2 linked regions of the Homo sapiens genome follow. The protein of the gene in region 1 purifies or fractionates together with the protein of each later gene. This does not show direct contact. Each region holds a gene or a part of one and is shown on either strand. Other genes may lie near its edges. The genes, in order: ADPRH and BCAT1.

Region 1 (3,827 bases):
CTCTGTCTCCAAGTATTTTTGATGGAAAGGGAGAGCCAAAAAATATGATGATGCATGCCCCAAAACTCCAAACCCCACCCAACAATGTGCCTTTCTTTATGTATAACCCTTGGCAAGATAACGCTAATAAAGGCAGCAGACTCATATAGGGATCCTTGGAATCTTTACCAGTCATTACTGAGACATCACAAAAAAATTAAGAAGTAAGTATATTGTTCTCTTTTTTAAGTAAATAAGCCTTTTAAGCTCAGAGCTTAAGAAACTTCCTCAAAATCACATAATCAGCTAGTTAGTGGCTGGGTAAAATCCATCAGACTCCAAAGCCCAATTCCTTATGGAGTCCAATAAGAACCTTACAATTAGGCCGGGAGCAGTGGCTCATGCCTGTAATCCCAGCACTTTGGGAGGTGGAGGCAGGCAGATCACGAGGTCAGGAGATCGGGACCATCCTGGCTAACACGGTGAAACTCCGTCTCTACTAAAAATACAAAAAACTAGCCGGGCGTGGTGACACATGCCTGTAGTCCCAGCTATTTGGAAGGCTGAGGCAGGAGAATCGTTTGAACCCGGGAGGCAGAGGTTGCAGTGAGTCGAGATTGCACCACTGCACCCTGGCCTGGGTGACAGAGCGAGACTCCGTCTCAAAACAAAAAACCAAAAAACAAAAAACAAAAACCTCACAATTGGAGTTCCTGAACATCAAAAAGAAAGAAAGCGGCCAAAAATTCTACAGTGAAGCCCTGGGCTCAGATGAGGAGCAGTGGATTCAGGGAAACAATGTGTCTTTGGTGAGTCACTGAACCTCTGGGCCTTGGCTATCCCCTCGTGACAGTGACGTAAGCAGGCTTGTCCCCCGACCTGTCCTACTGGGGACCTGTGAATACGCATGCGAACCAAGCGATGGCAGCAACATACGATGGAGTGTGGCACTGCTGTTCCTTTACTGGTCAGTGTTTTCACAAAAATGTTCATGGATGGCACAGGTGGACAAAAAAAAGTTTCCACTTGCTAAACTGATGAGCTATCAGATGCCGAGAAAGGATGAACAGAGATTGGCATCTAAAGCCAATCCTTGGGGTGACAAGGGCCCCTTGGTATGGTGATGGGAAGCTTTCATCAGGAGGTGTTATGTGCTGAATTGAGTCCCCCCAATTCAAATGCTGTAGCTCTAAGTACCTCGATTTGGAGATAGGGCCTTTAAAGAGGTGGTTAAGCTAAAATGTGGCCTTTAGGGTAGGCCCTAATCTAATCTGCCTGGTGTCCTTACATGAAGAGGAATGCAAACACACAGAAACACCAGGGATACATGCACACAGAGGAAAGACCATGTGAGGACACAGCGAGGAGGCAGCCATCTGCAAGCCAAGGAGAGAGGCCTCAGAAGAAACCAGGCCTGTCAATATCTTGACTTGGATTTCCAGTTTCCAGAGCTGTGAGAGACAAATTTCCATTGTTTCAGCCACTCAGTCTATGCCATTTTGTTATGGCAGCCCTAGCAGCCTCAAATAGGAGAGGTAGGTCAGATGGGCCAGAGAAAATCACCTGGTGGCCCAAGTGGCTCTAACAAGTTGCCGAAGTGGGCAAGAACCACTTGTGAGCGAACCTGTGGCCAGAAGTCTCTACAAAAGCCTTTGCATTTTTTTTTCTTGAGATGGGGTCTCACTCTGTCGCCCAGGCTGGAGTCCAATGGCGCGATCTTGGCTCACTGCAACCTCCGCCTCTGGGGTTCAAGTGATTCTCGTGCCTCAGCCTCCTGGGTAGCTGGGATTACAGGTGTGCACCATCACACCCAGCTAATTTTTTAATTTTTAGTAGAGATGGGATTTCACCATGTTGGTCAGGCTAGTCTCAAACTCCTGACCTCAGATGATCTGCCCGCCTTGGCCTCCCAAAGTGCTTGGATTACAGGCATGAGCCACCATGCCTAGCCGCATTTTTCTTTAAAAATAAAAAATATACATTTTTCTTTTTACTTATTCATCACAGAAAACTTAGAAATACAAGTAAGTAAAAATAAAAAACTATAAATACTCCCATCACCCAAATATAATTAGTAACATCTTTGTACATGTTCTTCAAGATCTTTCTCAACACAGAAATACATATCTATTTTTTAAAAAAAAGTTTTTTTTTGGCCAGGCATGGTGGCTCATGCCTGTAATCCCAGCACTTTGGGAGGCTGAGGCAGGTGGATCAACTGAGGTCAGGAGTTCGAAACCAGCCTGGCCAACATGGTGAAACCCCATCTCTACCAAAAATACAAAAATTAGCCAGACGTGGTGGTGCGTGCCTGTAATCCCAGCTACTTGGGAGGCTGGGGCAGGAGAATCGCTTGAACCTGGGAGGCAGAGGTTGCAGTGAGCCGAGATCGTGCCACTGCACTCCAGCCTGGGCAACAGAGTGAGACTCCATCTCAAAAAAAAAAAAATTTTTTTTTAACTGGCCACTCAAAAAAATTTTTTTTAAAGACAGGCTTTTGCTATGTTGCCCAGGCTGGTCTCAAACTCCTGGACTCAAGCAATCCTCTCACCTTGGCCTTTCACAGTGTTGGGATTACAGGTGTAAGCCACAGCACTTGGCCCCACAGATCTATTTTTTAAAGGACAGTAGGTTCATAACATACATACTATTTTATAACCTATTAGTGTATAATAATACTTTTCAATATTAGTAAATATTATTTGCAAATTTTAAATTTTTATTAATATTTAAATTGACAAATCAATTATATACATTTATTTAGTATAATGTGATGATTTGATATATGTAAACAATGTGGGATGATCAGGCTAATTAGCATATCTATTGCCTCACTTTTTTTTGTGGTGAGACATTTGAAATTTACTCTATTGGTTATTTTGAAATATACGATACATTGTTATTGAGTAGAGTCACCCTGAATAATTTTAAATGGTTGCAAATGTGTCAGCTTAATTAATTATGAGAGATTTAGGTTCTTTCTATTTATTTCTTTATTTTTTAGAGTCAGGGTATTGCTTTGTCACTCAGGCTGGAATGCAGTGGCACGATCCTAGCTCACTGTAGCCTCAACCTCCCGGGCTCAAGCAATCATCCTACCTCAGCCCCCCAAGTAGCTGGGACTACAGGTATGTGCCATGACACCTGGCTAATGTTTTAAAAATTTTTTTCTGGAGTTGTAGTCCCCAGCCTTTTTGGCACCAGCGACCGGTTTTACAGAAGATAATTTTTCCATGGACGGGGTTGGTTGGGGGAGGTTTTGGGACAAAACTGTTCCACCACAGATCATCAGACATTAGATTCTCATAAGAAGCCCACAATCTAGATCCCTCGCATGTGCAGTTCCCAACAGGGTTCAGGCTCCTATGAGAATCTAATGCGCCACTGATCTGATGGAGGCAGAGCTCAGGTGATGATGCTCCTTCGCCCATCACTCACTTCCTGCTGTGTGCTCCAGTTCCTAACAAGCCACGGATCAGTACCTGTCTCTAGAAGAGGGATTGGCTACCCCATTCTAGAGACAGGGTCTCCGTATATTGCTCAGGCTTGTCTTGAACTCCTGGGTTCAAGTGATTCTCTCACCTTGGCCTCCCAAAGAGCTGGAATTACAGGTATGAGCCACCACCATGGCCGTTATTTCTATTTTTATCACATTTACAAACACTATTGTCTCTGTTATTTAAATCTCCATCAACATTCTTAATGATTTCCTCAAGGCTGTTTTATTCTTTGCCCTCCTTGCACCTCCCACCGGCTGTGCTCACCTGGTGCCCGCCCATCCATGTCTTCCATGCAGTCTTGGTAATGCTTAGCAAGGAGGTAATACAGTTGAGTCAACTTAGGGGCTT
Region 2 (3,827 bases), on another chromosome or scaffold:
AAGCAATTATCTGCCTCAGCCTGCCCAGTAGCTGGGATTGCAGGTGCATGCCACCACACCCAGCTAATTTTTGTATGTTTAGTAGAAACAGGGTTTCACCATGTTGGTCAGGCTAGTCTCGAACTCCTGGCCTCAAGTGATCTGCCTGCCTTGGCCTCCCAAAGTGCTGGGATTACAGGCATGAGCCACTGCACCCAGCCACCTTTGCTTTTTATGTATATCTCCCTAAATAGAATTGTTTCTCAAGAGTGAGAATAATGCTTGAATTATTTCTGTTTTCCTGTTACTGGGTACAAAGTCTGGTAGCCTTGGTAGGAGCTACACAAATGTCTAATTAAGTAAAACTTAGCCATTGTTTGCTGGTCATTATTGTACTATATAAATGGTAGATTTGAAGAAAAGTTTAGACACTCTTCATATAATGGTTACTATGAATCATTATAATGTGTATACTATGAAGTATACACATTACATTTAACTTGCTTTCTTAATAGATAATTTTCAATTAGTTAAATTAAATACAACACTTCGGAAATACTGTCAAAAATATGTTACTGGTCTTAACTAAAATTTGCTTAAATGGCCGGGTGCAGTGGCTCACGCCTGTAATCCCAACACTTTGGGAGGCTGAGGCAGGTGGACCACCTGAGGTCAGGAGTTTGAGATCAGCCTGGCCAGCATGGCAAAACTCCGTCACTACTAAAAATACAAAAACTAGCCAAGCATGGTGGCAGGCATCTGTAATCCCAGCTACTCGGGAGGCTGAGGAGAATCGCTTGAACCTGGGAGGCTGGAGATTGCAGTGAGCTGAGATCACACCACTTCACTCCAGTCTGGGCGACAGAGCAAGACTCTGTCTCAAAAAATAATAAAACTAAAAATAATAAAATCAAATGTGCATAGGTACCAGTATTTCAGATTTTCTTGATAATGACTCTGGTGTCAAGCTAATTTCATTAAAAGGCTTCAATTTTTTTCATTCAATCTTGATTATAATAAACTCACGTGTCAAAAATCAAATATATAAATATATACAGTGAAAAGGCTCACGGTAACTTTCTTTTTATCTCTACCTGAGAGCTTACTGGTTCTTTCCTCAATTGTTTTCTTTTAATGTCATTATTTTTTACGCCTAATGACTATGCAAATGACTTCCACTCTTTGTAATCACAAACAATGCTGCAATAAATAATCTTGTTGATAAGTCATTTCACATGTGTACAAGTTAATATAAGGCACTTTTAATTAAACTAAATATTAACAATGATGTTGAATCATTAAATCTATTGCAAACTATGCAGTTACGTTAATATGGTTAAAACAATCCCTCATTTCAAGCTTCGAAGTGTTGTCCTTGAATATCAAGTGGTAGACTAAAGTACTCCTGTACATACTGTTCTAAGAACATTGATCAAAAGGAGGGAAGGTGCCAGTTAACCAGCAAATACAACATTAACACACTCAGTTATTAAGGGGCATAAACTTTATTGACATCCTACATCTATATATTCATGGAACTACTGACAATATTAATAAAATATTTGCTCTAATGTTATTGAATTTTTAAAAGCCAGTTTAGTTAATATCATGCTTTATAACCAAGTAATGGTTATATGTTATATGATTAATGTTATATGATTTCTTTTAAATAAGCATAAAGAATCATGGAAAACTATCAGCAGAGCCAACCATGAATAGTTGATGTGTATAACCAAAAGAAAAAGGAAATCAGTTATCAGGAGACTTTCAAAAGTGAATATAGTAGGTGCCAGAACTCTCCACAGGGAATTTGAGAAGTCCTATTTCTCGAGGCATTTAAATGGAATAGAACTGAAAGCTAGAAAAATAAACTCAAAAGAACAATCCTTCTTCAGCAGAAGTAAAAGCCCAAAATGACCTAATAGATTTTTTCTTTCAAAATTCTAGGATTCAATGAACACTGCTCTAAGTACCTCTTTTGTTGGATTTGTTTGTCAGGGTATGCATTCATTAGTTTGCTTAAAAACTGCATTGTTTGCAACAAAGAAAAACATGTTGAACAGTATTGGAATTGGTTAAGATTCCCAAACACATGACTTTGTTCTATATTCTAAGACCATTCCAAGGATGTTTCCCTTTGCATACTGCCTTAATCTGAAAACTAGTGATTGAACAGGCTGGCATTACTGAGTTTGTTCATTACGATTTTTGTGGTGTTCAGTTTATATTCCTATGTAGCATCTTTTTGTATGAATTTTCCTACAATCAATTTAAAATCAACCAGCTATGTGAGTTTTCCAGTAGACATATATAGCAGCTATATGAGTTTGGCAATGGGCATTAAGCTACATGAGTTTGCAGCTATATGAGTCTGGCAATAGGCATTAATAGCAGCTATATGTGTTTGGCAATAGGCATTAAGACCGTGTAAATACTTTACTGTTCTCTGTGTTTTTATAATCCTCTGTCTTTTGGAAGTCAATTAAAGCTTTAACTTCAAAGAAATCCAAGTGTGGAAAGATGTATGTGCCATTCAAAAACAGAGAAGTATAAAACAGAATCAATTAATCTGAATCTTGAAAGTCCAGAAATAGGCTCTCGATTTAACTCAACCAATATCTGTAAAGCACCAACAATGGTGCAAGGTTCCTGCCATGGTAGAAGAAAAGGTAAGTGCAGAGGAGTTGCAGCATATGATCAATATCTTTTTGGGGCAAGGTTCATGCTACAACAGAGGAAAAGGTAAAAAGCACAGTCGAATTAAAGCATTGATCAGTATCTTATTTCCTGACTTCAAAATGTAAATCTATGCATACCTTCCCACCTTTCGCCCATGTTCATTCCACTGCAAAAACATGATCACTGTTCTCACAAGGTGTCTGGGGAGTGGGCTGCATGGTGAGCAACATGGTGCAAATTATAGATAGGATGGAGGGAGTTAAAAACCAGTAAATGCAAATATAAGAACACATTTTGAGATAGATCAAATCCTCTCTTATGACTAGAGAAATGCATGCACATAGAAGAGGTGTAGGTAGATTTTAAACGGTCTCATGCACTAAACTAAACTCAGGAGACAATGGAGAAGCCATAGATTTTGCGTGGTGGAATGACATCGAACAGCACATAATGAAAATTAAGCTTCAGACCAGTTGGGAGACTTTTGGAATAATTCAAGCGAGAAGTAATGAGAGCATAAACCAGTATGCAGGGCAATGGGAAAGAGAGAACCTATAGATTCAGAGAAGACAGAGTCCACAGGACGTGGTACCTGCTTGAATATGTGGAATAAGAGAATAAGAAAGAAGTAAAAGATGGCTGGCTGGGCATGTAATCCCAGTAGTTTGGGAGGCCAAGGCGGGCGGATCACTTGAGGTCAAGAGTTCTAGACCAGCCTGGCCAACATGGAGAAACCCCGTCTCTACTAAAAATACAAAAATACAAAGCCAAGCGTGGTCGTGGGTGTCTGTAATCCCAGCTACTCAGGAGGCTGAGGCAGGAGAATTGCTTGAACCCGGGAGGCAGAGGTTGCAGTGAGCCAAAATCACACCACTGCACTCCAGCGTGGGTGACAGAACAAGACTCCGCCTCAAAAAAAAAAAAAAAAGATGGCTGGACTTGGGCCAAATATACACCCTTGTTACAATCAGCTGTGGCTAAGGTGGAGTCACCTGCAAAGAACATGGCCATACTGGCCTTCTCCTTTGACAGGTACAACAGGTAGGGGAAGTTATCTAAGTGGGAAGTAGGAAGGCTAGGCACCCCAAACTCCTACACTCCACTAAGAAATTGCATATTAACCTTGGCTAAGAAAACACCCACACACACTTCCAAACTAGTTGAAGATC

The links.
Region 2: the proteins of ADPRH (region 1) and BCAT1 purify together in Homo sapiens (affinity purification with mass spectrometry; one large-scale study listed by BioGRID and IntAct). This does not show direct contact.

The regions. Positions count from the first base shown.
Region 1 is NC_000003.12:119,582,384-119,586,210, reverse strand, and holds part of ADPRH (ADP-ribosylarginine hydrolase), read right to left. Parts: coding exon 3,744-3,827; intron 1-3,743.
Region 2 is NC_000012.12:24,938,974-24,942,800, forward strand, and holds part of BCAT1 (branched-chain-amino-acid aminotransferase, cytosolic), read right to left. Parts: intron 1-3,827.